Linked DNA regions of Homo sapiens. The protein of the gene in region 1 interacts with the protein of each later gene in a biochemical or structural test. Each region holds a gene or a part of one and is shown on either strand. Other genes may lie near its edges.

What was found. The genes of interacting proteins can lie anywhere in the genome.
Region 2: the proteins of CASK (region 1) and PLEKHH2 interact in a test that uses a peptide from one of them, tested with the Homo sapiens proteins (one large-scale study listed by IntAct).

The regions. Positions count from the first base shown.
Region 1 is NC_000023.11:41,518,055-41,521,554, forward strand, and holds part of CASK (peripheral plasma membrane protein CASK), read right to left. Parts: intron 2,543-3,500; coding exon 2,366-2,542; 3' UTR 1-2,365. UniProt on the Homo sapiens protein: Multidomain scaffolding Mg(2+)-independent protein kinase that catalyzes the phosphotransfer from ATP to proteins such as NRXN1, and plays a role in synaptic transmembrane protein anchoring and ion channel trafficking.
Region 2 is NC_000002.12:43,762,760-43,766,259, reverse strand, and holds part of PLEKHH2 (pleckstrin homology domain-containing family H member 2), read right to left. Parts: intron 2,033-3,500; coding exon 1,895-2,032; intron 848-1,894; coding exon 662-847; 3' UTR 1-661. UniProt on the Homo sapiens protein: In the kidney glomerulus may play a role in linking podocyte foot processes to the glomerular basement membrane. May be involved in stabilization of F-actin by attenuating its depolymerization. Can recruit TGFB1I1 from focal adhesions to podocyte lamellipodia.

The DNA.
Region 1 (3,500 bases):
AATTGTGGGGCCACAGACATTTAAGTTGGCATTGCTTTTCTCCTCCTCTGCTTAATCCACCTTTATAAATATGGCAGATGGCTTAAGACAGGCATCATCAGCATCTCTGGAGATGTGGGCTCAAAGGGCAAGTGGGGGCGTGGGGGTTTCCACTAGAGGGAGGGAAGTTTCTGTTTCCCATGTGTTAGTTGTAGTTGTCTTTGTGCTTCACCAGAAAAGAGGTAGAGTGCGCACCTTCACACTAAGAGCCCGAAATTGTGGTCAGTACCATACCAGGAACGACTGTCTGGCCTTGGCATCTATCAGATTCGAATCAGTTCTAACACAGCCCTACCCAACTCTTTGAAGGTTTCTCTCTCTATCTAGTGTGAGACCACTGTTGAGCTTATCTCTGGTTTGGTGGCTTGGTCACCCCACTGTGGGGCCCATACAGAAGTAGTTCACTCAATACCTTGTTAGTAAGTTGCAGACTCATCTGGTCACTGGCAAAGAACAACATCAGAAAAAAAAAAATCGCCACCATTTAATAATAGGCGGTGGGGGGCGGAGGCGGGTATGGTGTTGACAATGTAAAAGAAGTATACTAATGCCTTCTCTGTTTGGTCCTTTAAGAGGAGCTGTTCAGCTCAGAACACACCCTGCACATCCTGCCAAGGCACAAAGTGACAAGGCCATCTAACCTACAAGAAGCAAAAAATGATGGTATGTTTTCAAGGATCACAGGTTAATATAAGCACTTCACACCCTCACATGCTAATGAAAAACATTCTACTGACCTCTGGCAAAGAGTCTGAGAACCCCAGCCCGAATCTCCTGTATTGGAAGAATGTGACTTCATGGAAGAGTTATGAGATGGTTAATGTCTCTAAAGCAACAAGGACAGATGATTCCCCTGTGCCAAGGGATACAGCAAGAGGAAGGAGAGACCACAGGTGGCCTCCAGTACACCCGTGGCCCTTGGGCGCATGGCTCTGTGCGAGTCAGACGTGGTCCAGCTGTGCTCTGGCAGGCTACTTTGTCACCCTGCCAACTGATACTCACTCCTGGGCCTTCAAAGGTTCAATGAGCATCTAACAAATTATACAATTGTAAAGATTATCAGCTTGGAAGCCTGAACAAATCTATAATGAAATGAAGGACCCAAAGGCATTTAATTATTGAACACATAAAAGGAAGTATATTTAAAAAAAATTGGTCAAACTGTCCTGTTAGTTATCATTTTAAAGGAATTTACAGGGCTGTTATAGATGATTCTTTTGGAATATTTCAGTTTATAGCAAATGCCTAAACTGGTTTCTTCATTGCACAGTATTTTCTCTTAAAATGGGTGCTTTAAAACAATTACATACAGATTAAAAATCATTTCTTTGCTTAATTAAAACGTTAATACTCTTAGACAACACAGATCTGAAATGGTGAAACCAGCAATTCCCCCCACCCCACCTTACAACAAATTAAATTGAGACAAAATTACAAACACATTTCACTACATGATTATTATTAATAAAAATCAGTTTCTTTTTTTTTATAAAGTTGCCCAAAATGCAAGGGATGTGCATAGGTTTACAACTTAGTCATAATAGCATTTTATTCTTATTCCCCTGGGTGTGCCCCATGAACGGAATGTAGAATGTACTTTGCTGTAGATTACAGATTGTTTTGTCCAACACAGACACACCGACAGCATAAACGCTCGCGACTGTCCACATGCATTAAGAGTCAAGACCCAACTTCAAATCTCTAAAAGGTTTACAGGGTGCTTCAAAGAGACAGTATCACATTATCTGGATGTTACATAAAGGACTTAAAAAAAAATACTATTCTAAAAAAAAAAAAAGAGAGAAAAAAGGCCTTTAAAAATTTATGACTGTTTTGTAATCACTACACTAATTATTTCAAATAAATAAAGGAAAGAAAGATATCCCAATATTCCAATCCATAAAATCAGACTCTAAAAAGAATGTAGTGTTCCACCCCCAGTCAAGGTAACAGAATCATTGTTTATTATTATTAAAATAGATTATAGAAAGCAGCATCTATTTTGTGCAGTTTTTAGGGGCCTTGGAAATAAAAAGCTATGATTTCCAAAAATATAACATTCCAAAGGATTGAATAATACATACATTTAAAGATACATTTTATTAAAGTTTAGGAGAACTGATTAAAAAAGATACTGTCTCTTTAAATTAGTGTGTAATTGTTTTTCTCCTCCTATCTATTCGGACATGACAATAATTATAAATGTAGGTCACACTACAACTAGGTAGTCTCTAGGGACCATGACCTGCTGACACAAGGCCGATAACAAAGAGGCTTTTCCACAAATGAGGTGCTCCCAGTTATGCTCAGATATCTGGGGAGAGGCCTAATAGACCCAGGAGACAGGGACCCACTGTGGGGCTGTGCACACGAGCTCAACAGCTTCCTCCAGATGTCTGATTGTCTCATCAATTTCATTGTTGATAATTGTGAGATCGAAGTAGTGTGCATATGTTCTCTGTAAGATGTCAGACTCCTTCTGCAGACGCTGAAGAGATTCATCCTAAATGGTGATGAGATGGAGGTAGGGGTGGGCATGAGAGGAGGGAAAAGCAAACAGAAGAGAGAAATCAGTTGGATTCGTTCTCTTTTCACATTTTTGTTCATCCCAGTGTCAGAAACAGTCAAGGCCAGACCCTGATATGCCATATGCCAGCATGAGGCCAAGTCCGCTCCATGACAGAGGAGACAGTGATTGCTCAACATGCAACAGAGGGTCCATGACAAAGCAGACGAACCAGAGAAAACAGATACTCTTCAGGAAACATGCCACCCCCACTCAGGCCTAGCTGTGCCTGTCCCCAGAGTCAGGCTTGGTAGGGCCATGCCAGGTGTGGGTTACAGTGGCTATGGTGGCCCAAACAGGCCAGCAGGAAGCCCCCCGCCCTAGCCTCAAGCCACTCTCCCAATTGGCGAGAGGGCTACGGTGGCAAGGCTGGAGCTCTTTGCCCCCGTCCCCTTGGTCCTCCACACTCACTGGAGCCAGGCCTCAGGGCCCAGCTGTGTTTGCACCAACAAGTCCCTGCCCTTGGATGACAAATTAAGTTGTATTTTTTCCTCTTCTACTTAAAGGTGCCACACGTTCTAGGAATTCAATTACATATAATGGCCCTCACTCAATAGCAGCTGATGCCAGAGGCAAAAGATCTTTGAGTGTTACAAATAATGGCTGGAATAAGGCTGTTTCCCCAATAAACAGCACCTGGCATCTGATGAATCCCCCCAAATTGGTCTGCATTAGAAGTGGCTAGACAAATGTCACTGTTCGTAGGTCCTCATATCTCTTATGAAAAAAACAGAAGGAAGAGAACTCTAGGGAGTACTGAACTCTAGGGAGGTTTGCTGCAACAAAGGATGTTCCCTAAGCTGCAGCTTGCCACAGATTTTAAGAACTCTTGTAAGAGGGATCCAACAGGAGGAGGGAGTTTAGGGTCCCAGCTTTGTCATGCAAGTATAGCTTC
Region 2 (3,500 bases), on another chromosome or scaffold:
GTTTTAAATTTTACACTCCAGTGATGTGAAAAGGTGACGGTATACTTTCTAATACCACACAGGAGGCTCAGGTTACCTAATGTTATCCTGCTTTCTCACATAATGATTCATAGAGCCGGAAGATGTACTGCACCTGCTCTGAAAATGTACTCCTCGCACCACTCTGCAGCAGTTTCTTATGCTGCATGTTCTACTCCTTTCCAAACACTATATCATTAATTAAAAGCGCATTTAGTTATAGCACTTACTATTTTGGCAGTGAACATTTCCAAATAATCAACTGGTTTACCAAATGGGAGTTTGGAATCTCCCTTTCTAAAGATTGCCAGAATATTAAAAAGGGGAAAAAAAGAAAAGAAAAGAAAAGCCACATTGCACAATGTGTCTGATGACAAGGGAGAAGGGAGATGGAAAAAATGATGAATTCTTACTCATTTACTCTATAAGAAAATTAGTGTGTTGGCAAATTTTGTGTTTATGTTTTACTGTTAATATTTATTTGAATATTTAAGAATCAAATAAAAGAGACTAACCCCCTTCATTGTTAAGGTTTGGAATACCGGTGTGTGGCTGCCGTGCTGCCAGGTGTAAACGAACTTGTAGGGAGCTGATACAGCCACAGCATGGAGGACAAGGAGTGAATGTTCAGGCTCCCCAGCTTTCAGAGTAAGGTGGGGCCTTTGGTCGGTCTGCTGCTTGACAGAAGAGGCTGGCTTCCCATCATTCTGGCTTGGGGTCCCCGGGTCTGGGCTGAGAGCAGTGCTGGAGCAGAGAGGTGGTGAAATGCTGCCTTTTGCTGATGGAAGTTGTTTATGTAACTGGCGATCAAAAGAGTGATTTCAAGAATCTAAAACAAGGAAAACAGAATTGTTTTGCTCCTTAGAAGTTCTCATCACTTCCAGAAGAGAGTAAAGTGTTGGCCACAGGTGAGCTCCATTTGCAAGTGCCCAGGCTACCAGAATTCCCTTCTCTCTAGATCAAACAATGAAGTGCTTACATGTCCAGCACCATCAAGGCAGCCACACGTTTTTTCATTACTTAAACCAGCAGAAAGAGTGAATCTCAAAAACAATCAAATTGAGTGGCATTCTTAGGAAATGTGACAGTCAGTAGTAGAACTCTATCAAATTATCATAAAGCCACATTAGTGAATATATGAATTAAGAAAGTTAGTGTCATAAGAACTCTCTATTTTCACTAAAGACTGAGCTCCCTGATCTGCACTTAATGGTTAGCTGCTTTCACTTAAGTATAGGCTTAATTAAGAAAGACATCTATTTTGTAAAAAAAGCTTCAGATTCCGAAGAAGTAATTTCTTTTATCTGATAACATTAAGACAGCTAAAGTTGTAGGAAAATCACTTTCAATTAGAATTACATGTTAGAATGTAATCCATTTATTTATTGCTTTTACTTAGAGATGTTAAAACTACACAGTTTGTTAAAAGTCGTAAAGGAGCAAGTATGTTTTAATTATAAAATCCCAGTCTTTCCTCTAATGAGTCCATAAAGCAAATAACCTCAAGTGAATAAGATAATGTGTATAAAGTACCAGGCAGCAATAACTTAATGCCACAACTATTTATTTTGAATCTTCTATATACCTGGCATTGGGCTAAGTACCCTACAAACTTCCTTCATTTAATTTTTAAGCCAAAAGAAGTAGGGAGTATGTTACCATATTTTTAGACAAAGAAACCAGAGCTTGGAAAGATGATGTAAGTTGGACCCATGTTTGTTTGACTATAAATAACGTCTGTTTTCCCATCTGGAATGCAGTCTTTGCTGAATAAATGTTTTAATATGAAAACAATTAGCATTGCTTTTTGGCCTTCTGGCTAAGACTAAGTGAAAACAACTAGGACAAAAAAGTTGGCAGAAAGGCTTCTACTCACCTTGGGTTTTGCCATGGCAAAAAGTAATTTCTCTGTTGGTTTGTCCTTTGAATGTGTATTGTTAATGACTACCATAAAATCATCTTGATAGCCTCCAAAGGTCATTAGACTCTTGTACACATAGCTGACTATTAACCTCTTTAAAGATAAGAAAAAGTATATATGTTATATGCTCTTACTTCCAAGGAGAGATGGAAAATAATTAATAATATATCTCCATTAAAAGGCAGATATTAATCAATTATGGTATAATACAAAATTATTTTCTAAAATAAAATGTATTATGATCCAAAATAGATAGTAGTGGTACTAATTTTATTTAGGCATCATCTACCTTTACAATGTTGAGTCCGAAACAAGTCACTGCAGAAAAATGAGAAAATATAAGAAAAAAATAAAAAGCATCTATATTCCAGCATCTAGTGGAAAGCCACTGTTAATATTTTTTATATGCCCTTTCATATATCTCTTATATTTATGTTAGGTTAAGCCATATTACTGATACTTTTCATGGTCAAAATGGTCAAGTATTGGTAAATCTACATAGTTCACCTAGATAGATGGATTTTGAAATCCATAAACAGAAACAGTATCACGTATTAACCCTTTGTCACATATGCAGCAAATATTTTTTTCTAATGTGTTTCCAAAACAATGTAAAAATATAACTTAGGCCGGGCCTGATGGCTCACGCCTGAGGCTGAGGTGGGAGGATCACTTGAGCCTAGCCTGGGCAACATAGGGAGACCCAGTTTCTATGAAAAAAAAAAAAAAAAAAATTAGCCGGGCATGGTAGTACATGCTTGTGGTCCCAGCTACTTGGGAGGCTGAGGCAGGAGGACTGCTTGAGCCCAGGAGGTCAAGGATGCAGGGAGCAGTGATCACACCACCGCACTTCAGTCTGGGCGACAGAATAAGACCCTGCCTCAAAAAAAAATCAATAAATCAATAAAATAAAATAAAATAAAATGTAACTAATATACAGCCTGAAAGGACTCTGCATATCTAATGATTACCTTGCAAGACTGAGCAGACCATTCCAGGACTGAATGCCTCAGACCCACCTGTGTGTGCTTCCTGGCCTGTCTGGCTACCTCCTGGGAGCTAGGGAGCTAGTTTTCTGAACTAAGGTAACTTAGTACTGGTGTATAGGTTTTTTGGTTTGTTTGTTTTTACTTTAAGTCACTGATTTTATAATATCTTCAAGTTATCCATTTAAAAACTAAAAGGCACTCAGAAAATATAACCCCTTGAAAAAAAGTGTGTGTGTGTTTGTTTTTTAAGCAATTATAAGGGGAAACAGTGACTATAACACAAAAGAATAGTTTGGTTTCCAGAAAATTTTCAGTGATCTTCTGATTATAGCCACAGGATTAGACCTGCCAGGTGAATTTAGTAATTCCTGCTCACCAGATTAAACAAAAAAGAGAATAAAATTGTATTAAATAATTAGACACATGAAATATGATAAAAAATGTAAATTTCGGGTAAATAAATGAACACATATAGATATCATAGTTTGAATTTAAACTATGTGAAAAGTGCTAAGATGCTATATAAATGACATTATAGGAAATTATAGAAATTGTTAAAGAAGCCTTAGTGA